Homo sapiens: one gene and its partners. The protein of the gene in region 4 purifies or fractionates together with the protein of the main gene of each other region. This does not show direct contact. Each region holds a gene or a part of one and is shown on either strand. Other genes may lie near its edges. The genes, in order: CAPNS2, FNTB, CAPNS1 and CAPN1.

Region 1 (5,707 bases), on a different chromosome or scaffold from region 4:
TACAAATGTATCAAAACAAAATTGCTAGTGCTTTTTTTTACTAAAGAAACAGAATTAAAGAACTTTAGAATTTTAGATAGTAGCTCCATCATTTAAAAAAATGCTACCCTTATATAAAACTGCTTAATTTCATTGTCTGAACCTGTTTCTTTATGGTTAAATAAGTTTCCTAAAAAGCACTTTTCATTTTTTTACATAATGGGAAAACCAGGTATAAAATTACAAGAAAAACAGATTTTGAACCTCTCTCCTCAACTTTTTAAAATGGAAAATGTATCTCCTGAGGGCTTTCTTGATTTATTCTAGGATTAAAAAAATTCATTCTTAACAACAATAACAACAATAATAAAGTTCCTACTCCTTGGAATTTATTCACTAAATAAGCAACACCTTTTAAAATCTACTCCATTAGAACTCTACCCCACAACCTCCCCACCATATATATGCAAGTCCATATAAATCCAAATCTCAAAAAGCTGATATACAAACCACTCAGAACATTTTTCGTGAAATATCTGTTTTAATTCAGCAGTAAAAGGCAGCACATGATCAGAAATATGTAGGGTTGTGAAAGAGCTTGCCAGGAAATGAGAGCTGTTGCACAGGGTATCAGCAACTGTGTACAGCTTGGCAAGGTTTTCAGTCCTGTCCTCCAGGGAGGATCTTGACTTCTCAGTTCCCACTTCAGGAATACATGGTCAACTGCAGCCATTCTTTGATAGACACTTGAATCAGGCCATCTCTATCTCTATCCAGAGACTTGAAGGCACGAAACATGGCATCCAGGCGGACCAAGCAGCTGATGAAATTGTTAAAATCCATATCTCCATCTTCATTAGCATACCGGCGGACAATCATTTGGTAAAGTTGTTCATTTAGCTGGAAGCCTGCGGCCTGCAGAGCTCCCCGCAGCTGAGAACTTCCCAGAGACCCAGAATGGTCCCTGTCATACTGCTTATAAACACACTGCCATTTCTTGATGTTGTTCCACAGATACTTAAATTCTTCAAAGCCCAGCTTACCAGTCGTGTCACTGTCCATGACAGACACAATGCTCCGGCAGGTGTCAAGACTAAAACCGTCAGTCTTAAGATCTTTGTGCTTAGAAAGGACTTTGTTGAGAATATTCATCAGATCAGTGGCACCCACCTCCATGTCTGGTCCAGCCAGCTGTGTAAATTGTTGCCGAAATCGCCTAACTTCCTCACTTTCTGAGGCCTCCACACTGGTGAAATGCTGCTGAGTGGGAGGCGGTTCTGGAGTATACTGAGCTGCTGCAGCCTCACTGATAAAATTCACAATTCCTCCAACTATCCCTCCAATATTTCTTCCTCCTCCTTCTCTTCTCTGACCACCTCCTCCAAAGAGGCCTCCAAGAGCTTCTCCAAGACCTCGATCTGCTCCTTCCAATAGAGCCTTTGCAAGAAACATGCTTTCAGTTTAACAAGCAAATGCGGCAGCAATCTTAGAGATGGTATGAAAAAAGATGAAATGGAGTTCAAGTAGTTTACATGTGGAAGAACTGGCTTTTCTTTACCTGCTTACACTGCACCACGCCCCATGATGTGATGTTTCACATCCTACTGAAGATACCTGAGTTCCATGAGGTCCTAGCACCTGCCATATTTTACAAGGCCTCAATAAAATTGTTTTCACTCTTCCAGATACTTATAAATTATAGTATGTAGGACACCTTAGGATAATAGTTTTAAAGAAAAAATATTAAAGTATGCATTTTTATGTCATTGATTTCTTAGTCCTCTGTCTCAGCACCTAAAAAATGATGTGCATTTTCCTAACAGGAAAAAGGTAAATGATGCAAGGAAATCAAAAATTTATTCTCTAAGAAATATTTATTGTTAGAATAGAATTGAAGAAATCTTGGGCATTGGAAGAATATTTAATCCTCTTCCTTTAGCAAAGATTCTCAAAATCCAGTAGTCTTAAGAAAAATTTAGAAGGGAGATTTTTAAAATGCAAGGTCCTGAATTTCCACTCCCAGAGATTCTGATTCCATAGGGCTGCTGTGGTGTCTGTGATCGACATTGCTAAAATCTTTTTTGAAATGTAACATTCATGTAAAAAATGTATCATATAAATCACAAATGGATAGCTCAAAGAATTTCACAGACTGCACACATCTCAGAGGCCTCTTCATACTTCTTTCTAGTTACTTCCGTCTTCCAAGGATAACCACTGTCCTGACATCTAACACCATAGATTTATTTTTGCACCTTAAATAAATTAAATCAGACAGTACAGACTCTTTCATTTATTCCTTTTTCATTATAAAAATGTTAAATGTTTTAAAATTGTGATAAAATACACATGCCATAAAATATACTATTTTAACCATTTTTAAGTATAGAGTTCAGTGGCATTAAGTATATTTGCATTGTGAAACCATCACCACCAGCTATCTTCAGAACTTTTTTCATCTGGCAAAACTGAAACTGTACCCATTAAAGAATAACTCCCATTCTCCCCTTCCCCCACCCCTGGTAACCATCTCTCTATTTTCTAGCTCTATGATTTGACTACTCTGCATGCCTTATATAAGTGGAATCATACAGTATTTGTTCTTTTGTGACTTGCTTATTTCAATGAGCATAATTTCTTCAAGATTCATCCATGTTGTATCATGTGTCAGAATTCCCTTCCTTTCTAATGATGAATAATATTGTATTGCATTAATATACTCATTTTGTTTTTCCATTATCCCATTGGTGAATACTTGGGTTGCCCTTTTGGCTATTGGGAATAATGCTGCTATGAACATGGGTATACAAATATTTGTTTGAGTCTTTGCTTTCAATTCTTTTGGGTATATACCAAGAAGTGGAATTGCTGAATCATATGATAATTCTATTTTTATCTTTTTAAGGAACTACCATACGCTTTTCCTTATTGACTGTACCACTTACATCCCCACCAGCAATACACAAGAGTTCCAATTACTCCATATGCTTGCAAACACTTGTTATTTTCTCTTTTGTTTTGTTTTCTAATAATAGCCATCCTAATGGCTGTAAAGTGGTATAACATTGTAGTTTTGATTTGCATTACCCTAATGATTAATGATGTTGAGCATCTTTTAATGTATTAATACTTACTGACCAAAGAAGATCTTTGGAAAAATGTCTATTTAAATCTTTTGGCCATTTTAAAATCTGGTTATTTGTTGGGTTTCTTGTTGTTGAGTTGCAGGAGTTCTTTAAATATTCTAGATATTAATCCCTTATCAGATATATAATTTGTAAATATTTTCTTTCATTCTGTAGGTTACCTTTCCACTCTGTTGTTAGTGTCCTTTGATGCACAAAAGTTTAAAATTTGTATGTGGTCATATTTATCTATTTTTCTTTGGCTGCCTGTGCTTTTGGCGTAATATTCAAGAAATCATTGAGAAATCCAGTGTCATGAAGCTTTTCCTCTGTTTTCACTGAAGAGTTTTATAGTTTCAGCTCTTATGTTTAGATCTTTGATCCATTTTGAGTTAACTTTTGTATATGTGTAAGTTAAGGGTCCAACTTCATTCTTTTGCATGTGGATATATAATTTTCCCAGCACTATTTGTTGAAAAGACCGTCCTTTCCCCATTGAATGGTTTTGGCATTCTTGCTGAAAATCATATGACCATATACACAAGGGTTTCTTCTGGGATCTCTATTCTATTCCATTGGCTTATATGTCTTTCTTGAAACCAGTGCTGCACTGTTTTGATTACTGTAGGTTTGAAGTAAGGTTTGAAATGAGGAAATGTCAGGCTTTCAACTTTGCTATTCTTTTTCAAGATTGTTTTGGCTATTCAGTGTCCCTTGAAATTCCCTATGAATTTTAGGATTGATTGTTCTATTTTTGTAAAGAAACATTGGGACTTTGAAAAGGATTGCTTTAAATCTGTAGATCACTGTGGGAAGTACTGACTCTTAATATTGTCTTCTAATCCATAAACATGGAATATCTTTCCATTTATTTGTCTCTTCTTCAATTTCTTTCAGCAGTGCTTTGTAGTTTTCAGTGTACAAGTCTTTAGCTTCCTTCTTGAAGTCTATTCCTAAGTATTTTAATTTTTTCTATGCCATTGTAATGGAATTGTTTTCTTAGTTTCCTTTTCAGAATTGTTCATTGTTGGTGTATAAAATGCAACTGATTTTTGTGTGTTGATTCATATCCTGTAACATTGCTAAGTCCCTTAATTAGTTCTGTGTTTTGTATGTGTGAGGGGTAATCTTTAGGGTTTTCTACAAATAAGATCATATCATTTGTTAACAGAGATAATTTTACTTCTTCCTTTCTATTTCATATGCCTCTTATTTCTTTTTCTTGCCTAACTGTTCTCGCGATGATTTCCAATACCATGTTAGTAGAAGCATGAGAGTGGGCATCCTAGTCTTATTCCTGATCTTAGAGGAAAAGCTTTCAGTCTTTTCATCACTGAACACAATGTTAGCTATCAACTTTTCATATATGGTGTTTATTATGTTGGGGCACTTTCCTTCTAGTTTGTTGTGTGATTTTATCAGGGAAGAGTACTGAATTTTGTCAAATGCATTTTCTGCATCTGTTAAGATGATCATGTGATTTTTCCCCTTCATTCTGAGAATATGCTGTGTTACATTAATTGATTTTCATATATTGAACCATCTTGCATTCCAGGAATAAATCCCACTTGATCATGGTGTATAATACTTTTAGTGTGCTGTTGAATTGTGTTTGCTAGTATTTTGTTGATTTTTGCATCCATGTTCATATGGCATATTGGTCTGTAGTTTTCTTCTCTCCAAGTGTTTTTATCTGACTTTGGCCTCATGGAATGAATCAGAAAGTATTCCCTCTTCTTTAATTATTTGGAAGAGTTTGAAAAGAACTGGTGTTAGTACTTCTTTCAATGTTTGGTGGAATTTTCCAGTGAAGCCAACTGGTCCTGGGCTTTTCTTTGTTGGGAGGTTTTTGGTTACTGATTCAATATCTTTGCTAGTTATAGGTCTATTCATATGTTTTACTTCTTCATGATTCAGTCTTGGTAGGTTGTGTAGGAATTTGACAATTTCATCTAGCTTATGCAATCTGTTGGCATACAGTTGTTCGTAGTACTCACTCATCATCCTTTTTATTTCTGTAAAATTGGTAGCAATGTCTTCTCTTTCATTTCTGGTTTTATGTGTCTAGCTTTTTCCCCCCTCAACAGTATATTTTTGAGATTTGATTTTATATTTTTAATAAGCATCTTCAGAAGTCAGTCTGTAACAGGTAGCCTGGATAATACTTTGAGAAATCCTACCTTTAATACTAGTTATAGTCAGAGTACAGGTCCTCCAGAGGTTATTGGAAGTTCTACTGGGGAACTTGGGGAAAAGTAGCTAGGACTTAATGATTAAGTCATTATATTACTTAGCATTTGGGGGTCTCAATTTCGAATCTACAAAATGATAATAATAATATCGCCCTTGCTTACTTCAAATGATTCAATCTGATTTATTATGTATCAGGACTTGGGCTCAGTACTTAGGTTACAAAGGTGAATAAAGCAGGATGGCTGTGCTCAAAAATCAAGTAGAACTACAGGAAACTGGTATAATTATAATATGAAGTCTGTGTTCACATTTCTACTATCAATACTAATCTATTATATTTGTATATATATGTTTTAGTATTTAGGTTTCATTGAATTCCTCTGAAAGATACAAATGTATTTTAGATAAGG
Region 2 (8,026 bases), on a different chromosome or scaffold from region 4:
CCTATCCCCTCTATCCCAAGGTGTTACTCTCCACAGCGTTTCTAATTAACATTTTATATTGAGATAGCTATAGATATTAACTCTTTTAATTGACTGCCTCATTGGCCTAGAAACAGTTTCATAAAGGCATCAACTTGGCCTCTTTTGTTTAACAACTTATGCCGAGTGTCTAGAACAGTGCCTGGCACGTAGAAGGCGCTCAAGTATTTGCTGAATGAATGAGAATCAACGAATGGAACAGACGACTCACAGCTAAGGACTCCTTCCACTATTTATAGGTTTAACTCCTATTACCAAATTATTGCTTAACAAATAAACCGAGTCTTCTGATAATCAGATAGGAAGCAGGTAACAAGCATTTATTTTTTGTTTGTTTTTTTTTTTAATTTGAAAAGCTTTCATCTTAAATAGACACAGGGTCTTGCTATGTTGCCCAGGCCAGTACCAAAATCAGTATAGTCGTTTTTTGTTTTAAGAGACAGGGTTTTACTCTGTTGCCCAGGCTAGAGTACCGTGGCTCGATCATGGCTCATCTGTGAACTTCTGAGCTCAAAAACAATTCACCCACCTCAGCTTCCCAAGTAGCTGGGACTACAGGTGCATGCCACCACGCTCAGCTACTTTTTTTTTTTTTTTTTTTTTTGGTAGAGACAGGGTCTTGCTATGTTGCCCAAGTTGGTCTCTTGGGCTCAGGTGATCTTCCCGCCTCGAACTCCCAAAGTGCTGGGATTACAGGTGTCAGCCATCAATTTGTTTTTACTGGCAATGGCACAAAATTGAGCTATCAGTAAATGGAAGCTTTAGTTAAAACTGAAAGAGTACTAGTATATCCTCTGTAAACAACTCCTCCTAACAAGGTTGTTACTTTTGATGAATGTATCATTAACCTACCAATGTGGTAGGTCTCTAAACCTCAGTCTTCTCATCCATAAAAAGTGAAAGGATTGAATGATACCACATATGGAGAGCATTTAGCACTGTGCTGAGACTCAATAAATGGTCACTAACATGATTATTAAAACAGTGAGGAAGGCCACAAAAATGAGATACAACATTATCATCCTACTACCTGAAACTGTTCATCCTAGACTCTAATAATGTGTGCTGGAATAACAACATGAAAAAGAAATATAAGATTCTTTACTGTCTGCCATACCGTTGGGTCTAGATTTGAAAGATACTCGCACCAGGAGCAGTGGCTCACGACTGTAATCCCAGCACTCTAGGAGGCCGAGGAGGGCAGATCACTGGAGGTCAGGAGTTCAAAACCAGCCTGGCCACATGGTGAAACCTGTCTCTACTAAAATACAAAAATTAGCCAGGCGTGGTGGTGGGCGCCTGTAGTCTCAGCTACTCTGGAGGCTGAGGCAGGCGAATGGCGTGAACCCGGGAGGCGGAGGGTGCAGTAAGCCAGTGCATCCCAGCCTGGCAACAGGGCGAGACCCCATCTCAAAAAAAAAAAAAAAAAAAAAGGCAATCCCATAGTCTAAGGTCAGATAATAAGTAAAACACTTGACCTGAATCAACTCAGCAATCCATCATTTAGGAATTCTGCAAAGATCCTGTAGGTTTTTCATCAATGGGAAATTTCTTTACAATCTTTTGCAGTCAGCCTTCCCTGGGACACACTGGTAGGCAAACCAACCTGGAGAATTAGCTAGATTCGAGAGGTGAGGATTTCCTTTGCTACCCTAAATTCCATGAAGTTTAAATCTCCAGTTAAAATATTTTCTCTGCTACTTTGTGAATAACCACGTATCAAGCCCTTGTTTCTGTTATAAATTTATAATTCTATTTAGTCATAACTGTACAATAAAACAATTATTGTTACTAATTTTGCCAAAGTACAGGCTTCCAACTTAAAGTAGGAAATACAAAACAGGTCTCTCCAAGGTAAAGCCTGGAGACTGATCTCACTAAGAGATCTTATTTCAGTAAGCAGCAGAATGTTCATTTATTAGTGTTAAGAATTATCCTAACCACTTCTCCTAGGGACAGATGGATAAACAGTTCCACATAGCAACCTTGGGAACAATTCCAATTAGGGAATAAGAAGAAAAACAAAACTATGGTTTTGGGCATATGAATATATACTCATTCGCCAAACACTTTTCAAAATGATAGGTTCGATCCTACTTCTAGGCCTTAGGGAATGATTAGTAGTCCAAAATCCATTCTTTCTATTAGATCACTTTCCAAACTGTTTTCCTGCCTGTCCCCCAACCAGGCTCCTGGTCAGGAGCTGTTTTATTTCCTTGTACTTCCATCGTTTAATATTGTGTCCGACACGTAGCTGGTGCTCAAATGGCTGAATGACTACCAAAATGCCCACCCACGAGGCGGGCCCCCAAACCTGGCACTGTAGGTCAAAAATTAAACAGATCGTGAAACGGCATGACAGCAGCCTGGCCCTGCTCTCTGCCTCCAGAAGCTGAGGGCAGGTTGGGAAAAGTGCACTATGCACCCCAGAACCTCCCGAAGTACTGGCAGAACAGAGTGGGCTGTCCGACCCGCACGGGCTGCCTCTGTCCTCCAGGCATAGAACACGATTCTTCTCGTTCTTTAGGGCAGAGGGGACTCGGCTACTGCCCTCTCCTCCAAGCCCAACCTTGAAACGACCCTTCCCCAAGCTGGCCGCGCAAACGCTCCACGACGAAGCCCAAGCCTGGGCGCCCGGAGCTTCCCAGAGGAAAGGCACCGCGGTGCGCTGTGGGAGTCGTAGTTCCCCGGTGAGTTCCGCACCCGGGCGGCCCTACGAACGGGACTCGCGCTCCCAGAACACATCGCGCGGGCGCCTCGCCCAGTCCTGCCACCTCACCTGTTCTATGGACGTGACTGTTTCCACCGAGTCGTCCTGCAACCGCTCTCGCGCGTGCTCGGGCCTCAGACTGTACAGCGGCTCTGACCAGACGGGGGAGGAAGATGGAGGGCAATAGTAGGTGAAAGAACTCGGAGAAGCCATGATCAGGAGAGCAGCAGACAGTGTGTAGGACTCTGCTTCGTTAAGCAACAACGCGCATTGAAACTCGAGCGGGCTAAAGCGCTACGGCGAGCGGATAGAGGCAAAAAGATTTTGAACGCGAATGTCTCCTCCCGCCTACCCGTCTTTCGAGTGAGTTACTGAGATGCTGCCGCCCCCCATTGGGCAGAGGAGCTGCTGCAAGAGCGTAGAGTCCTGAAGCGCAAGGGTGTCTACATCCGAATTTCATTTCAGCGAGATGGCGTAGGACGCCTCGGTTTGTTACGCAAATTGTTAAAGAACTGTAACATTCTGCTAATTCTCACTTAATTGTAATGCAATTGTTTGCAATTTCAGGTGCCCAAGAACCCAATGAATGTTAAGTTTGAAAGCATTTCTGACAGCTCTACTGATTTGCCTCAGTCAGGCAATTACTAAAAGAATTATTGTGCACCTTGGGGTACTTGACAGCCTCCCAGGAGAAGGCAGCAGCTGCTCAAACGTGCAAGGACGCCGTCTCAGTATCACTCAGTGATGGAGGGAGGGGGGTATTATGATTTTCTCCTGTCTCTTGGAGGTTACACTGCAGTAGCGAGAACTGAAATGCAGTACAAGGAACAAGGATAAGTGAAATAGACAGTCAGTCCGCAGATATTTATGGAACACCTGCTATGTGTCAGGCATTGTGCTAGGTTCTAGGAATACAAAAGTGAACAAAACGAAGTCCCTTCCCTTGGAAACCTTACATTCTAAGAAAATCGACAGAATTGAATGTATCCAACGCAATAAATATATGAAGACTTGTGATAAATGAGATGAAGGAAAATAACAGGGTCTATGAGAGAGACTAAAGGGGTAAGAAACTAATTGAATTGTATGGTCAGGCCAAGCCTCTCTAAATGACCTTTCATTTGAGATCCGAAGGATGACGAGGAGTCATCCAGAAGAACAGTATGGGAAAGAACTCCTGAAAAAGGAAGAAACAGCAGCTTTTAGAAGACATGTGCTGGGCACGGTGGCTCACGCCTGTAACCCCAGCACTTTGGGAGGCTGAGGCAGGAGGATCACTTGAGGAGTTAGAACATCCTGGGCAACATAGCAAGACCTCATCTCTATTAAATATCAAAAAAATTAGCCGGGCGTGGTGGCGCATGCCTGTAGTCCCAGCTGCTCGACAGGCTAAGGTGGGAGGATCTCTTGAGCCCAAGAAGTCGAGGCTGCAGTGAGCTATGATTGTGCCACTGCACTCCAGCCTGGGTGGCAGAGCGAGACCCTGTTTCAAAAAAAAAAAAAAAGCAAAACAAAAAAACAAACAAAAACCATAGGCTCAAGTGACCCTCCTGCCTCAGCCTCCTGAGTATCTGGAACTACAGATGCTCACCACCACGCCCAGCTAGAATAAAAGAAATTCTTATTGATTCTTATGGAGTGGACTTACTCATCACACTTGCCTCCAGAACAACCAAGTTTAAAGTTGTGATTTTTAGGAAAACGCTGCTACCTTTGGACAAGCAATAGAAGAGAATTTATTTTAGGGCATGCATCAAAAGTACTACACCAAAAATTATAATACCAAGAGATTAAACTGGGGGAGTTGTATGTAGGAGATTATAGAAGGTATGATAACAGACATTCCGGGTACACTTGGAGACAAGCTTTACTTCCTGCTCAGAGCACTTCACTCTGTTCCCACTCCATTCCATGTCACATGTCTAGGATCCAGGGATTATAGACCAGAGTGACATTTGACAACCAGCCATTCCCCTGTTCTCAGTCTCTGGTAGTAAATAGAAGCACTCACAAAAATTTCAAAGATGAGGCTGGGCTGGCCTAAAGACCTCAGGTGGATAAATACTACCACCATGTCCATTTTAGTGGTACTGTTGCTGAACTAAGACCTAGAGGCACCAGAATATTACCAAATCTGGAAATAAGGGGACAGTATGGGTTAGGACCCATGGATAAGGCTGCACAATGTGAAATGGTCTCATTATACTGCCCCCTGTATTGGCATCTTACTGTCTTTCCCTTAGTTATATTTTGGGAAATAAATGGTCTGATAAGGTCAGGGTTATATCTAAGGATTCAGCCTTTGTCACAAAGAGTTTCTTTGCAGGAGAGCTGGAAACTTAACGCTTCAATCCTGAAGACTGTGCTATTGAAAGAATAGCTGGGACAGTTTTGTGACAAATTGTTGCATCTGTCACAGATGCACCTAAAGCAATTGCAAACTGTATTTTAGAAATAAAAATTCATCTCTGAAATTCAGTCTCCTCTGCAGTGGGATCCAAAAGATGTGAATAGGAACATGGGCAAGAGTCTCCGGCAGGATAGTGTGTTCTCATTCAATTAATGTTTATTGAGTACAGGGTAAGTGCTGGGCACTGAGCTAAGTGCTAAGGAGACAGCAGTGAACAAGCCAGACACAGTCTCTGCCATTATGGGTCTCATGACTTACCAGAAAAAACATTAAACAGTAATGACAGAATTGACTCTTTCATGACAGTTGGGAGAAATGGGATGAGGCAGAAAGAAGCATGGAGTGTGTGAGCTTGCATGATGGGGGGACCCTAAGGTAGCCTGGAAGGTCTGGAAAGACTCCCATGAGGAAGTGAGTTAATTAATCCAGGGGATGAGAACATCCCAGGCAGAGGAAACCCAGTGACAACACCAAATCAAGTGAAACCAGCAATGAAAAATATGTGGGGTTTGTACTCCATGTAAGCATCAAGAAGACCTGGATCAAATAGCCCACTAGTTGTCCCTCCTCTTGGTTTAATAAAACCACTCATTCAAGAAGCAGAATGAACATAAATATTAATGGTGCTATAGAGAATGATATATTTAGAGAGAAAACTCTTAGTCATGATAATAGCAACTCCAGCTTGGACTGCAGATGGTTTATGTTTATTTTACTCACATGCCTGATACTCTTTTCTAAATTAAACTGATCGTGTTTCTTTAAAAATAATATTAAATGTGGACCGTGCTGTTTTATACTTTTAAGAGCAAGAAAAAGAAAAAAGTAATGGTCTAAATGAACCCCTAGAGGTCGCTTCCGACCCTGGAGTGCGTTTAGGGAGTAAGTTTTAAAACTGCTCTCACCGTTCTCCCTGTTTTCACTCATACAAGCCGTATGTCGGAATGAATTGTTTCCTTTAATATCTTGTGAAACTGTGTAGTAATACATATTGGAACATTTGGAAAATGGAAAGAACTCATCTATTATCCCGCTAGGTAATTAACTTCCTCCCCAAGTTTACTGCCCACCATCATCTGTGCCCTCCTACTCGGCGGTCCTGTCCCTCCTATTCCCCTAGATGGAATGACTGCCCCATCTCCTACCTAGGACCAGGTCATCTCCCTCCCCTCACGCGCCACCCCCCAAAGACTGTCGCAATTCTCCCTTTCCTTTCCTAAAACACCAAATTTTTCCTCTACTTGATCATCCAGATCTCCCTCAAGCATGCCATTTTCTCATTCTTGGCAGCGTGGAGGGTGAGGGGCTTTTTTTTTTTTTTTTTTTTTGAGACAGAGTCTCGCTCTGTCGCCCAGGCTGGAGTGCAGTGGCGCGATCTCGGCTCACTGCAACCTCCACCTCCCGGTTTCACGCCATTCTCCTGCCTCAGCCTCCCAAGTAGCTGGGACTACAGGCGCCCGCCACCACGCCCGGCTAATTTTTTTTTTTTTTTTTTTTTTTTTAGTAGAGACGGTGTTTCACCGTGTTAGCCAGGATGGTCTCGATCTCCTGACCTCGTGATCCGCCCGCCTCGGCCTCCCAAAGTCCTGGGATTACAGGCATGAGCCACCGCGCCTGGCTATGAGGGGGTGGGGGGGGGTGCATCTCTAACCCTCTTGATTCCACTCCTTCTCCAGCTACCTCCCGATGACTCATTGGCGGAGACCCTTGAAAGATTTGCTACTACTAACGTCTCCAGGTCCTCTCTTCCAACTCTCTCAAGCCCATTCTAATCAGGTTTTCCAATCGTTTCTTATCAACTCTCCATTAAATTCCATATCGCCAAATCCAAGGGCCAGGTCTCAGTCCTGATCTCAAGTCTTCCTTCTTGACTTCCCAGCAATATTTGCACAGTTGATCATTTCCCTTCTTGAAACACATTGTCCTTGTGGTGCCTCACACTGGTTTTCCTCCTTCCTTGCCTTTCTAATATCTTGGATACCTTAGCTTGGGGTACCCCAGGATTCAGTCCTCAGACTTCTTATCTGTCTGCACTAACTTCCCTGTCAGCTCAGGCAGTCTCAATGTTTTAAATAACACTTATAGGTTGAAAACTCCCTAATTTGTATCTCCAACCTGGATCTCTCCTGAACTCCAGAGTTCATGTCTAATGTCTATTTGCATTTCCACTTAGATCTCCAATAGGCATCTCAAACTTAACATATCCACAACAGAGCTGCTGGTCTTCCCTTCCAAACTTGTGCACTCAGTCTCCCCGATCTCTATTATGATAACTCCATCCTTCCAGTTACTCCAAATACCTTGGAATCATTCTTGCTGCCTCTCTTTTTCTCACTCCTTGTAAGTTCTGTTCTAAATATATCTAGCATCTGATCACTGCTTACCAATCCCACTGCCAGTGTCCTGGTCCAAGCCACCATCATCTGTTACTTGGATTCTTACACTAATCTCTTAACTGTTCTCCCTCTTTTCACTCTTGTCCCCCTGTACCCTAATACAAACTTGCTATAGACTGAATGTTTAGGTGCCCCCAGTAGTCATATGTTGAAACCTAATCCCCAATATGAAGGTGTTTGAAGGTGGAGCCTTTGGTAGGTGTTTGGGTCATGAGGGCCGAGCTGCCATAAATGGGATTCATGTCCTTATAAAAGAGACCCCACAGAGCTCCCTCACTCCTTCTGCCATATAAGGACACATAGAGAAGGCATCACCTATGAGCCAGGAAGCAGGCCCTCACCAGACACCGAATCTGCAGGTGCCTTGATGTTGGACTTTATTTCTGTTGTTGACAAGGTACCCAGTGTATGGGATTCTGTTCTAGCAGCCTCAAAGATCCAAGACAAAATGAAAAAGCCAGACTGAACTTT
Region 3 (7,036 bases), on a different chromosome or scaffold from region 4:
GCCTGGTGGGAATGGGGAGACCCGTGGACAGAGCTTGTTAGAGTGTCCTAGAGCCAGGGGGAACTCCAGGCAGGGCAAATTGGGCCCTGGATGTTGAGAAGCTGGGTAACAAGTACTGAGAGAACAAAAGCTTGTGGGTCAGCAGGCCCCACAAAGATGTGACTGCAGACAGGATCGGCCCTGGGAGAGACCGAGGCTCCAGGTGACTCCTATAGCAAGGCAGTGAGGGGGCGGGTCTGGGGCTCCAGTTCAGGAATACATAGTCAGCTGCAGCCACTGGGGAGAGGAGGGTGGAGAGTGAGGACAGGGAACCCCAAGAGCACCAGCCCCTTTGCCCTCACCCAGGGACGGCTGGCAAAATAGGAGGAAGGGGACTGCAGCTCAGAGCTGGTATGAAGGGCTGAGGGGTGGGGTCCTCCCAGGCACCCATACCCCAATATGGGGGTCCTTACCTCCTGGATGTTCACCTGGATTTGTCCAGTGCCATCTTTGTCAAGAGATTTGAAGGCACCTGGAGGAGGAGATGCAGAGGTTTGGCGGCAGGGAAGGAAGGAGACTGGTTTTTGGCATAATAACATTACACAAATACATGGGATGACAATCATAGCAGCTGGCACTTCACTGAGTATTTACTGTGTGCCAAGCATGGGGTAAAGTGCTTTCCAGGTATTGGCTGATTTAATCCAACTCTGTGAGATAAGTGTCATTTTAAAATGAGGCACAGGCTGGGCGTGGTGGCTCACACCTATAATCCCAACACTTTGGAAGGCCAAGATGGGAGGATCACTTGAGCCGCCCAGGAGTTCGAGACCAACCTGGGCAACAGAGACCTCATCTCTGCTTTTTAAAAAAACTAAAAATTAAAAACAGGAAAAAAAGAAATGAGGCAGGAAGGGAGGGGCCATGCCCCAGGTCACATAGCAAGAAAGTGAAGAAATCAGGATTGGAATCCAATCTGTTACCCTCCTCAATAATGGCCTCTGTGTACTGATATCACCTCTGCCCAGCCCCAGCCTCCTACTGACATCTATGCTCCATCCTCTCCAGTTCTAAGCCTAACAGGCTACTAGAGGGAGGCTCTGCACACTCTACTTCCTGCCCCTAGAGTCTTACAGGTAGGTCCCCACGCCTGCCCTGAAACTTGACTCCATGTTCCCCACCCACAGGGAATCTAGACATGATGACTACACTATCTCCGCTCAGTTACCACCACCCTCAGGTGTCCATACCCACAGCGTCCTGCACACCCTGGCTGCCTTTCTTTCTTTTTTTTTTTGAGACAGAGTCCCACTCTGTTGCCCAGGCTGGAGTGCAGTGGCACGATCTTGGCTCACTGCAACCTTTGCCTCCCAGGTTCAAGTGATTCTCCTGCCTCAGCCTCCTGAGTAGCTGGGACTACAGGCGTGCACCACCACGCCTGGCTAATTTTTTTGTATTTTTAGTAGAGACGGGGTTTCACTATGTTGGCCAGGCTGGTCTCAAACTCCTGACATCAGGTGATCCGCCCACCTCGGCCTCCCAAAGTGCTGGGATTACAGGAGTGAGCCACCATGCCCAGCCCTTTTTTTTTTTTTTTTAGACGGTGTCTCTGTGGCCCAGGCTGGAGTCCAGTGGCAAGATCATAGCTCACTGCAGCCTCACCCTCCCGGGCTCAAGTGATTCTCCTACCTCAGCCTCCCGAGCAACTGAGACCACAGGCATGTGCCACCATGCCCGGCTATGTCTATATACATATATTTTTTTTTTTTTGTAGAGATGGAGTCCTACTACATTGCCCAGGCTGGTCTCAAACTCCTGGACTCAAATGATCCTCCCGACTATCAGCCTTCTTGCTGGTAGATCCAGTGGCTATTTCCTGGCCCCTCTTATGTGACTTGTGGCATCAACCTTGTCTGTCCACTCCCTTCACCTCCCTGCTATCTCACATACCTGCTTCTTTTCCTCTGTTACTTTTCATGCATTGTGGGCTCTCTGGAGGCCAAGGGATCTTTTTTTCTTTTTTTTTTTTTGAGATGGAATCTCGCTCTTGTCACCCAGGTTGGAGGCTGGAGTGCAATGGCATGACCTCTGCTCACTGCAACCTCCGCTTCCTGGGTTCAAGCAATTCTCCCTCCCTAAACCTCCTGAGTAGCTGGGACTACAGACACGCCCCCACGCCTGGCTAACTTTTGTATCGTTAGTAGATGCGGGGTTTCGCCATGTTGGCCAGGCTGGTCTTGAACTCCTGACCTCAGGTTTTACGCCCACCTCAGCCTCCCAGAGTGCTGGGATTACAGGCATAAGCCACTGCACCCGGCCTGGAGGCCAAGGGATTTTTTTTTTTTAAGACGGAGTCTCGATCTGTCACCCAGGCTGGAGTGCAGTGGCAGATCTCAGCTCACTGCAAGCTCCGCCTCCTGGGTTCATGCCATTCTCCCGCCTCAGCCTCCCAAGTAGCTGGGACTACAGGCGCCCGCCACCACACCTGGCTAATTTTTTGTATTTTTAGTAGAGATGGGGTTTCACTGTGTTAGCCAGGATGGTCTCGAACTCCTGACCTCGTGATCCGCCCTCCTCGGCCTCCCAAAGTGCTGGGATTACAGGCGTGAGCCACCGTGCCCAGCCGAGGCCAAGGGATCTTTCTAAAGCCAAACCTGACCCTGTCCTCCCTCTGCCTAGAACCTGCCATGGCTCCCCAATGTCTCTGGTAGAGTTTGAGCACCCCCAAACTTGGCACCCACAATCCTGCATGACCTAATCATGCTCACTGCTCCTACCTTCTCTTACTTAGCTCAGATCTCAGATAGATCCAAGTTCAAATTCTGGCTTTACAACTTCCTAGCTGGGTGACTATGAGCATGAAAATTTGCCTCCTTGAATCCTAAGTTCCTCCTTCACAAAATAAGGACAGTAATCCCCACTTCCCAGCCATGTCTTCAGCATTCAGTACACTAACACTCAGAAGGCCACATGCAATGGCTCATGCCTGTAACACCAAAGCTTTGGGAGGCTGAGGTAGGAGGATTGCTGGAGCCCAGGAGTTCAAGACCAGCCTGGGCAACATAGCAAGACCCTGTCTCTACAAAAAATTTTAAAAATTAGCCAGGCATGGCGGTGTGTGCCTGTACTCCCAGGTATTCGGTAAGCTGAGGCAGGAGGACTGCTGGAGCCTAGGAGTTGAGGCTGCAGTCAGCCATGATCATGCCACTGCACTCCAGCCTGGGCAACAAGAGCAGCAGACTCTGTCTCAAAAAAATAGAAAGAAAGAAATCTAACAAAAAGCATCAGAAGCCCCATCTTCTTTCCCTTCTAGGCCTTTGCACAGGCTGTTCCCTCAGCCTGCAACAGTATTCCCTACCTTCTCACTAAGTTCTCTCCTCATCCCCTCAGGTCTCAATGTTCCCTCTCCAGTGAGCCCTCCCTGACCCCTTGGGCTGCATCAGGTTCCTCCTGGATTGGATTTGCCCTCTAGGCTTCCCCAAGCACAATCTGAGCACGCTCTGCTCACTCTTCCCCTCACCAGAGCCCTAGACCCTCGGCCTGTGCTGCCCCCATCACAACCCATCACTCTGCCCTGAGCTTCCCCTCTCCCAGCCATCACCAGTCTGAACTGTCACTGTCTGGGGACTTGTGTCTCCTCCACCAGACTGTGAGCTCCATGAGGGCAGAAACTGGAACTGATTCAATCACCACTGTGCCCCTAGCATCGCCCACCTCAAAGTCAGGCTTAGAGGAGACCTTGGTCCATAGAGGTCATAGGAATCCCCACCCAGGAAGACAGCTGGGTTGTCACTCACGGAACATGGCGTCCAGCCTGACCAAGCAGCTGATGAAGTTGTCAAAATCCATGTTCCCACTTTCATCTGAGTAGCGTCGGATGATCATGTTATAGAGATGCTCATTCAGGTGGAACCCTAAGATGGATGTAGTCCTTCAGGTGCGGGGGCCACATGGCCCAACCCACTCCCATGCCCAGGAGTCAGGCCCAGACCAGCTGAGTAGAGGTTTTCTCACCCATCCCACTCCCAGCCCCAGCATGTCCCTGCCAGCCATACCTGCTGCCTCAAAGGCACCTGGGAGTTCACTACTGCAAATGGTCCCTGATCGGTCAGTGTCGAACTGTTTGTATATGGCCTGTGAGGACAGAGACATTGGGTCCAAGTGAGCATTGTGGGGCATAGTGTCTCCATGGCTTGGGGGTCTGGGTGCCAGGGATTTCAGAGGTTTCTACACACCTGCCACCTTTTGATGTTGTTCCACAAGTACTTGAATTCCTCAAAGCCCAGCTTGCCTGTGGTGTCGCTCTGGTGGGAGGGTGTTAAGAAGAGTGACAGCTACACCCAGATGCATGCATCACATGCACTGTGGACACGATGGTGATACAGCAAGCAGGGCAGCCAGGGCTGAAACTCCAGCTCCCGCTTGGTCCTAGTCATATCACCTGGTGTGCGGTTTTATTTTTCATTTTATCCATACATATTGTCACTTACATTTCTAAATAGGGATTCTCTTTAAACATAACCATGAGGAATTATATTCAACTACTCTAAAGTACAAATTCCTTGCCTGAAGAGTTGTTAATTGCTCATTCAGAAAATTCTTAATAGGCCACGCACGGTGGCTCCCGCCTGCAATCCAGCACTTTGGGAGGCCGAAGCAGGCGGTTCACTTGAGGTCAGGAGTTCGAGACCAGCCTGGCCAACATGATGAAATCCCGTCTCTACTAAAAATACAAAAATTGGCCAGCTGTAGTAGCGCACACCTGTAATCCCAGCTATTCAGGAGGCTGAGGGAGGAGAACTGCTTGAACCTAGGAGGTGGAGTTAGCAGTGAGCCAAGATGGCACCACCGCACTTCAGCCTGGGAAACAGAGTGAGACTCTGTCTCAAAAAAAAAAAAAAAAAAAGAGAAAGAAAAGAAAATTCTTGACAGTAACTCAATTTCATAAAAATGTTAGGATATGTGAAAAACAAGTGTGTGACCAGGCATGGTGGTTCATGCCTGTAATCCCAGCACTTTGGGAAGCCAAGGCAGGTGGATCGCTTGAACTCAGGATCCACCTGATGTCCACTCAGGAACATCACTTTCTCACTAAATCCTTGGGACACCAGTTCTACCAGGACTATTTCCAGAGAAGAAAACATTCAAAGCTGAAAACTCTACCCAAGATCATAGTTAAGAGCTAATGTGTACAGACCACATACTATGCGCTATACACTGTGCTAAACCTTTTGGATGTAGTTCCGATTCGGTATCACCATTATCACTCACCCATTTTACAGAGAGAGAAACTGAGGCACAGAGCGGTTCAATAACCTGGTTAAGAGGTAGAGTTGGGATTGCTTTGCTCTATGCAATATGTCTGTGATTACATGACATGTATATTATGTATGTGTCTGTTTGCCCTATGTGTTAAATGTGCATGAGGCCAGGCGCAGTGTCTCAAGCTTGTAATCCCAACACTTTGGGAGGCCAAGGCGGAAGGATTGCTTAAGGTCTGGAGTTTGAGACTTGCCAGGTCAATATAGTGAAAGCTTTTCTCTATAAAATATTTTTTAAAACAAAAATAAATAAAAATATGCATGTATCCAAGATCAGCTAATGGCTGGCCCATGTACAGATAACACGTGTGTCCCTGTGCACACTGCCTCATACACCTTCACGTATGTGGGTGTGCTCTTAGGTGTGTGTGTGTGTATATGCGCATGTGGCTGTTATAAACGTGGGTTCTCAAGCCCAAAAGACCTGAGTCCACAGACTGGAGTGCAGTGACGAAACCTCTGCTCACTGCAACCTCCGCCTCCCGGGTTCAAGCAATTCTCCTGCTTGAGTAGCTGGGACTCCCGAGTAGCTGGGACTACAGGCGTGCACCACCACGCCCAGCTAATTTTTGTTATTGTTATTTTTCTTTTTTTTTCTTTTTTTTTTTTTTTGAGACGGAGTCTCTCTCTGTCGCCTAGGCTGGAGTGCAGTGGCGCGATCTCGGCTCACTGCAAAGCTCCGCCTCCCAGGTTCACGCCATTCTCCTGCCTCAGCCTCCCGAGTAGCTGGGACTACAGGCGCTCACCACTGCACCCGGCTAATTTTTTTGTATTTTTAGTAGAGACAGGGTTTCACCGTGTTAGCCAGGATGGTCTCGATCTCCTGACCTCGTGATCCGCCCGCCTCGGCCTCCCAAAGTGCTGGGATTACAGGCGTGAGCCACGGCGCCCGGCCTATTTTTATTTTTATTTTTATTTTATTTTTTGAGACAGAGTCTGGCTCTGTCGCCCAGGCTGGAGTGCAGTGGCGCGATCTCGGCTCACTGCAAGCTCCTCCTCTCGGGTTCACGCCATTCTCCTGCTTCAGCCTCCCGAATAGCTGGGACTACAGGCGCCCGCCACTACGCCCGGCTAATTTTTTTTTTTTTTTTGGTAGAGACAGGGTTTCACTGTGTTAGCCAGGATGGTCTCAATCTCCTGATCTCGTGATCCGCCCGCCTCGGCCTCCCAAAGTGCTGGGATTACAGGTGTGAGCCACCGTGCCTGGCCAATTTTTGTATTTTTAATAGAGATGGGGTTTCACCATGTTGGCCAGGCTGGTCTCAAACTCCTGACCTCAGGTGATCTGCCCACCTTAGCCTCCCAAAGTGTTGGGATTACAGGCATGAGCCACCATGCCTGACCTTTATCTATAACTTGAGACAAATGACTGCTTCTTTCAGGAAACTGAGCCTCAGTTTCCTCTTCTGTAAAATGGAATATAATAATTGTGCCTGTCCAACAGGGTGGTTATGACGGTTCGGTCACTTTATATAATTAAAGTGCCAGCTGTGACAGCTGGCATTGTTATGATTTACCGCCACATGTCTGCAGGTGACTGTGTTCTGATGAATGCATTTCCACATCTGTGGATATGAAAGCTACATGTTGGCTTCCCAAACATACTCTCAAAAAACTCTCTGTCCACCCAGGGCCTCTCCCACACTGCCCCCAAGGATACATCCATCACGGCCACCATGCTGCGACATGTGTCAATGCCAAAACCATCAGTCTTCAGATCAGGGTCTGTGGGTAAC
Region 4 (6,615 bases):
GAGCTGGATTTGAGCCCTGGTCCTCAGAGCCCCTGTCTGACATGTACACATGAGGCTTTTCCTGCCTTGCCATCTACACCAAGTAAGTGCCAACTAGGGCGGTCCAGCAATGTCAGGAGCAGGGCATTAGACAGGCTGAGAGTTCTGTACCCTTGAGCAGTTGCTTAAGCTCCGAGCCTGTGTTTGTGTCTGTAAAATGGGTGTAACAGCAGAACAGCAAATGAGGTGCCGAGTACCCTGCAGTACCTGACCTGGGGAAAGCTCCCAGTGATAATAATGACAGTGTTATTGAAACACATGCCTAATCTGCAATCCGGTGCTCCTCTCCTCTACCCTCTGCAGTGAGTAGGGTTGTTACATTTTACAGATGAGGAAACTGAGGCAAAATGTCTTGTTAGGGTCACACAGGCTGTGAGTGAGCCATGCCCCAGCTCTCCAGCCCCTTGGCCAGGACAAGGAGCCTGGAGTCTGGGTCTGGGGGTGGCCCCTGAGGGTGGGCTGAGTGGGCAGCTGCAGCCCTGCTCCCTCCTCCCTCCCACCAGCTGGTGGGCCAGCCGGCCGTACACTTGAAGCGTGACTTCTTCCTGGCCAATGCGTCTCGGGCGCGCTCAGAGCAGTTCATCAACCTGCGAGAGGTCAGCACCCGCTTCCGCCTGCCACCCGGGGAGTATGTGGTGGTGCCCTCCACCTTCGAGCCCAACAAGGAGGGCGACTTCGTGCTGCGCTTCTTCTCAGAGAAGAGTGCTGGGACTGTGTGAGTCATGGACTGGCCCCTGCCACTCTCCCCTCTCCCAGCCTCCCCTCTCAGGCCCTCTGCTGTCCCCCTCTGACTGGCTCCTTTCCTCCCCACTCTCTGCAGGGAGCTGGATGACCAGATCCAGGCCAATCTCCCCGATGAGGTGCGTGGTCCCACCCCACCAGGCCCCGTCCTCCTCTCTTCCTCACCCCTGGGTGTGTGATGGGGACCCAGGTGTCCTGTCCCCTGAGTTCCTGCTAACAGGGAAGATCCCCTCCTGGTGGAAGCCATAGGAGTAGTGCTAATCCCTCATCCGCCCAGCACTTTACAGTTTGCAGAGGACCTGTGATACTAATGGCACAGGCCCTGAGCTCTCACCCGGTGGCGGGTTTGTGCTGAGCACTTCACCTGTGTTACCTCATTTCCTCCCCACATCAACCCTGTCCGGGTCTTGTTACCATACCTCCTCTGAATGGGAAATTCAGGTTCACAGAGGTTAGGGAACTTGCCTGAGGCCATACAGTAGGGATCCAAACTCTTGCCTTTTTTTTTTTTTTTTTTTTGAGAGAGTCTCACTCTGTCACCCAGGCTGGAGTGCAATGGCGTGATCTCGGCTCACTGCAACCTCCGTCTCCTGGGTTCAGGTGATTCTCCTGCCTCAGCCTCCTGAGTAGCTGGGATTACAGGCGCACGTTACCACACCTGGCTAATTTTTGTATTTTTAGTAGAGACGGGGTTTTGCCATTTTGGTCAGGCTGGTTTCAAACTCCTGACTTCAAGTGATCCACCCACCTCGGCCTCACAAAGTGCTAGGATTACAGGTGTGAGCCACCGCACCTGGCCCAAACTCTTGCCTTTTACTCACTGAGCTGAACAGCATCCCCTTCATTTAGGTCACATGAGTGCTGGATATGGGGCGGGGCAGGGCAGGGCAGGAACGAGATTCCCTTTTCAGATTAGAAAAGTGAGACTCAAGCCGGGCTCAGTGGCTCACGCCTGTAATCCTAGCACTTTGGGAGGTTGAGGCGGGCGGATAACCTGAGGTCGGGAGTTTGAGACCAGCCTGGCCAACATGGCAAAACCCCGTCTCTACTAAAAATACAAAAATTAGCCGGGCATGGTGGTGGGCACCTTTAATCCCAGCTACTCAGGAGGCTGAGGCAGGGAGAATGGCTTGAGCCCGGGAGGCGGAGGTTGCAGTGAGCTGAGATCACGCCACTGTACTCCAGCCTGGGTGACAGAGTGAAACTCCATCTCAAAAAGAAAAGAAAAGAAAAGTGAGGCTCAGAGAAGCGAAGTGACTTGTAGCAGATATGTGACCTCAGCCCTCCCTCCAGCTGCCTCCACACGGGCAGGGCCGGGGCCTCTCTTACCTGCTTTCTCCCCTTCTCGGTCCAGCAAGTGCTCTCAGAAGAGGAGATTGACGAGAACTTCAAGGCCCTCTTCAGGCAGCTGGCAGGGGAGGTAGGTTGGGGCATGGCAGGTTGGGAGGGGCCTGTGAGGGGCAGCCCTCTCCTGGGGCAGGTGCCACCTCCTCTCTCTCCCCAGGACATGGAGATCAGCGTGAAGGAGTTGCGGACAATCCTCAATAGGATCATCAGCAAACGTGAGTCCCCGCGGGGCTGTCCCACCACCCCACCATTTCTTCCACATCAGAATCCAGGCTCCTGCTCACACATTGAGCTGAACCTCATCCCTTGGTCTGCATGAGTCGGGGAATCCTCCAGTTTTTCTGAGCCCAGTTCCCTGCCATTTCCATCCCATACTCCTCCTCCTGACCTGCCATCCTGATAATCCCTGTGCTCGGGTGCTGTGCCTTTGTGGGATTAGCAGCGCAGCCTGGCCAGGCACAGTGGCTCACACCTGTAGTCCCAACACTCTGGGAGGCCGAGGCAGGAGTCGCTTCAGCCCAGGAGTTCAACACCAGCCTGGACAATATGGAGAGACCCTGTCTCTGCAAAAAAGTACAAAAATTAGCTGGGCGTGGTGGCATGCACCTATAGTCCCAGCTACTCAGGAGGCTGAGTTGGGAGGATGGCTTGAGACCAGGGAGGTTAAGGCTGCAGTGAGCTGTGATCACATCAGTGCACTCCAGCCTGGGCAACAGAGCAAGACCCTGTCTCAAAAAAAAAAGCAGGAGCAGCACCTTAGTGCCAAAGAAAAGTCTACCTTTCCTCCCAGAGCCTCCTGGGCCAGGCTGAGTGGCTTGGGGAACACCACGTGACTGGCTTCACTCCCCAGGGCAGACAACTGCTGGCCTCTCATCCCCTCCCCTCCCCTTTGCTGCCACTGACCTCCATCCACACGGTTTCCTTAAGCAGAGCTTTTCTCCTCCTCTTCTCTGCTAGTGAAGCACTGCTTACCCTCCTAGCCTACAGCAAGCCCTGCCCTGCCCCATCTTTCTACCCAATTTCTCGCTCTTCTGTTTCACACTCATTTCTTTTTACTTTGGACTAATTGTGGCTGTTGGGACTTTGGCTTGATTGCTAAAATACTTTACTTGTACTTCCTGATGATACAAACAATCCTGCCCACTTCCTCTGCCAGATATTGCACCCACTCGTCAGGATTTGTGCGTCCTTGACTCTGCCCCACCCAGTGCTCCCAGCAGGGGCAGGTGCAGGAAGCTCACTAGGTGGAGATGTTGGAATTGGTTTTTCTTGCAGACAAAGACCTGCGGACCAAGGGCTTCAGCCTAGAGTCGTGCCGCAGCATGGTGAACCTCATGGATGTATCCTTCCGTTTGCTTTTGTCTCCTGAGTGGGGTTTTGGGTGGAGGTATCGGTGCTGGGAGAACTGTCCCAGGACAGCACAGAGAACAGGACAGAGCCATGCGGAGTGTGGACACACAGTGCCCCATGCTCAGATGTCTCCCTGGACGTCTTCCTGTTGGTTGGGAGGGAGAAACTGAGGCACAGACCTGTGTCAAGTGAAAGGTGGAGCAAGACCTGGGTCCCCATTGACCCTGAGGCTGGTGCTATTTCTGACCCCTCCCCAGCCCACTCCACTGCAGCCCAGCTCAGAGAATAAGGCAAGCCCGGCTGTGGGCTGACTGTACATGGCTTTTGCTGCTTCTCCTCACCCAGCCCCAAGTCGACTTGCCGGCTCGGCGGCCATCTCCCCTTCTGCACAGTTGCCCACTCTCCCATGACTGGTCTAAGTGATGGAATTTCCTTCTTAACGGCCACCCAGCGTGATGGCAATGGGAAGCTGGGCCTGGTGGAGTTCAACATCCTGTGGAACCGCATCCGGAATTACCTGGTAGGTTGTCCCCACTCACCTCAGTCATGCAGGTGCGGGCCGGGCAGGTGGGAAGGGCCGGGTGACTCAGCCTGGCCCTCACCCTCTGCCGCCACCTCAGTCCATCTTCCGGAAGTTTGACCTGGACAAGTCGGGCAGCATGAGTGCCTACGAGATGCGGATGGCCATTGAGTCGGCAGGTGAGACTCCAAGGCTGACGGCACCTGTGGGGCCCAGGACAGGTAGCCCCACTGCTCCTATGCCCCAGGCCCTTGTCCCTGGGGTGCTAGTGGTGACATGGTAACAGCCATCTTGTCCTTTTCCCCACGGTTACTAGCACCCTGCCTAGCCCCAGCCCCCTCCTGGGGACCCAACCCCTCCCCCATCCTGTTGGGCAGGGGCTGCGCCTCACTGACCTTCACTCACTCTCCTGGACCAGGCTTCAAGCTCAACAAGAAGCTGTACGAGCTCATCATCACCCGCTACTCGGAGCCCGACCTGGCGGTCGACTTTGACAATTTCGTTTGCTGCCTGGTGCGGCTAGAGACCATGTTCCGTGAGTGTCCCCAACTGCCTCCCACCCTCCAGCTCCGTCCCAAACGCGTCCCCCAGGAGCTGGGGGGAATGACAGATGGGTGAATTAGCAGATACAGGCCAGTGCTGTGGGTGTGTGCCAGAGAGGCCTGGGTCTGGGTTTGGGGGGCCCTGGCTGAGTGCCAGGAGAGTCGGGGAGGGAGGGAGTTGACAGTGGCTTCTCAGGCAGCAGGAAGGGGTGAAGCTTCCCAGCTTCAAGGGGTGTCAGCTTGCGGTACTGTGGGGAGGTAGAGAGGGACCAGGCAGGAAGGGGGCCAGGCCTGGCCCTGCGTGAATATCCCACTGAGTTTTCAGCCCTGTATCACCTTTTCTTGAACACACAGGATTTTTCAAAACTCTGGACACAGATCTGGATGGAGTTGTGACCTTTGACTTGTTTAAGGTGGGAACCTCCCTGGGCCCATGGTTGGGGAAGAGTTCCAGGCGATCGAATTTTCTTATCTGGCCAGTGTTCCCTGTCCTTTCCTGGAAATGAGCCTGGGCCTCAGAGCCAACCCTGAAGCCCGGGCCACCTGAATCCTGAAAGGCTGGGGTGGGGGTGTCTGGATTCTGGGAAAGGAGCAGGAGGGGAGGTCCAGGCCCTTGGAGGCCCCTATGGGAGCAGCACTCTGGTTTCCCAGGGGTGGAGGAGGTAAGAAAGTAACCCCTCCATGAGGTTCCTGAGGTGGCTCCTGAGACGTGGAGTTGGGGGCTGGACCTGGGGTTTGGGTGGGGAAGAAGCCAGGGAGCCATTTCTGCGGCCCCAGCTGACCTGCCTGTTCTCCCGCAGTGGTTGCAGCTGACCATGTTTGCATGAGGCAGGGACTCGGTCCCCCTTGCCGTGCTCCCCTCCCTCCTCGTCTGCCAAGCCTCGCCTCCTACCACACCACACCAGGCCACCCCAGCTGCAAGTGCCTTCCTTGGAGCAGAGAGGCAGCCTCGTCCTCCTGTCCCCTCTCCTCCCAGCCACCATCGTTCATCTGCTCCGGGCAGAACTGTGTGGCCCCTGCCTGTGCCAGCCATGGGCTCGGGATGGACTCCCTGGGCCCCACCCATTGCCAAGCCAGGAAGGCAGCTTTCGCTTGTTCCTGCCTCGGGACAGCCCCGGGTTTCCCCAGCATCCTGATGTGTCCCCTCTCCCCACTTCAGAGGCCACCCACTCAGCACCACCGGCCTGGCCTTGCCTGCAGACTATAAACTATAACCACTAGCTCGACACAGTCTGCAGTCCAGGCGTGTGGAGCCGCCTCCCGGCTCGGGGAGGCCCCGGGGCTGGGAACGCCTGTGCCTTCCTGCGCCGAAGCCAACGCCCCCTCTGTCCTTCCCTGGCCCTGCTGCCGACCAGGAGCTGCCCAGCCTGTGGGCGGTCGGCCTTCCCTCCTTCGCTCCTTTTTTATATTAGTGATTTTAAAGGGGACTCTTCAGGGACTTGTGTACTGGTTATGGGGGTGCCAGAGGCACTAGGCTTGGGGTGGGGAGGTCCCGTGTTCCATATAGAGGAACCCCAAATAATAAAAGGCCCCACATCTGTCTGTGATGTGTTTCTCCCCAGCCTACTGCCTGGAGGGCACCTGCAGGCCCCGGCCCATGGGGGCAGCTCGTGGCCTCAGCTCACCCCTCCCCTCCAACCCCTCCATCTCCTTCCCCTTGACCTTGAAGCTTGAACCCCTACTGGAGTACTGGGTATCTGGGCAAGACCACCCCTGGCCCTGGGAGGTTGGGAAGGAGGGGCCCTAGCTGCAGGGACAGGGCCACACAGCTGAGGTCCCACATGGCTCTGCTGATCCTACATGCCCTCCCCGCCGCCCAGGAGGCCTGACCCCTACCTTTCTTGCACACTTCGGCCCGTTGAGGTGAGGCTCTGGCTGAAATTCAAACCTCTACTTAGCACACACCCGGCCCCCCAGAGAGCTCCCCCGAGCACAGAGCCGCCTTCAGGTCCCTCTGTGGGGAGCCCCTGTGACCCAGACACCTGCACTTACATAAGCCGCTCCAGGGCCTGCTGGGATCTGGGATTTTCTTACCAGAGATAAGAGTGGTTTGGGGGAAGGAAGAGGGGATGGGGC

The links.
Region 1: the proteins of CAPN1 (region 4) and CAPNS2 purify together in Homo sapiens (affinity purification with mass spectrometry; 4 studies listed by BioGRID and IntAct, with this or other methods). This does not show direct contact.
Region 2: the proteins of CAPN1 (region 4) and FNTB purify together in Homo sapiens (affinity purification with mass spectrometry; 3 studies listed by BioGRID). This does not show direct contact.
Region 3: the proteins of CAPN1 (region 4) and CAPNS1 purify together in Homo sapiens (co-immunoprecipitation; 5 studies listed by BioGRID and IntAct, with this or other methods). This does not show direct contact.

What each region holds. Positions count from the first base shown.
Region 1 is NC_000016.10:55,562,481-55,568,187, reverse strand, and holds CAPNS2 (calpain small subunit 2), read right to left. Parts: upstream 1,505-5,707; 5' UTR 1,432-1,504; coding exon 685-1,431; 3' UTR 501-684; downstream 1-500. UniProt on the Homo sapiens protein: Calcium-regulated non-lysosomal thiol-protease which catalyzes limited proteolysis of substrates involved in cytoskeletal remodeling and signal transduction.
Region 2 is NC_000014.9:64,981,890-64,989,915, reverse strand, and holds the start of FNTB (protein farnesyltransferase subunit beta), read right to left. Parts: upstream 3,022-8,026; 5' UTR 2,963-3,021; coding exon 2,819-2,962; exon of another isoform or gene 2,803-2,818; intron 1-2,802. UniProt on the Homo sapiens protein: Essential subunit of the farnesyltransferase complex. Catalyzes the transfer of a farnesyl moiety from farnesyl diphosphate to a cysteine at the fourth position from the C-terminus of several proteins having the C-terminal sequence Cys-aliphatic-aliphatic-X.
Region 3 is NC_000019.10:36,143,053-36,150,088, reverse strand, and holds part of CAPNS1 (calpain small subunit 1), read right to left. Parts: intron 7,026-7,036; coding exon 6,961-7,025; intron 4,284-6,960; coding exon 4,215-4,283; intron 4,114-4,214; coding exon 4,035-4,113; intron 3,894-4,034; coding exon 3,777-3,893; intron 512-3,776; coding exon 453-511; coding exon of another isoform or gene 277-452; coding exon 250-276; 3' UTR 1-249. UniProt on the Homo sapiens protein: Regulatory subunit of the calcium-regulated non-lysosomal thiol-protease which catalyzes limited proteolysis of substrates involved in cytoskeletal remodeling and signal transduction. Essential for embryonic development.
Region 4 is NC_000011.10:65,205,921-65,212,535, forward strand, and holds the end of CAPN1 (calpain-1 catalytic subunit), read left to right. Parts: intron 1-542; coding exon 543-754; intron 755-859; coding exon 860-899; intron 900-2,134; coding exon 2,135-2,200; intron 2,201-2,284; coding exon 2,285-2,342; intron 2,343-3,402; coding exon 3,403-3,467; intron 3,468-3,928; coding exon 3,929-3,997; intron 3,998-4,097; coding exon 4,098-4,176; intron 4,177-4,415; coding exon 4,416-4,532; intron 4,533-4,893; coding exon 4,894-4,952; intron 4,953-5,339; coding exon 5,340-5,366; 3' UTR 5,367-6,086; downstream 6,087-6,615. UniProt on the Homo sapiens protein: Calcium-regulated non-lysosomal thiol-protease which catalyzes limited proteolysis of substrates involved in cytoskeletal remodeling and signal transduction. Proteolytically cleaves CTBP1 at 'Asn-375', 'Gly-387' and 'His-409'.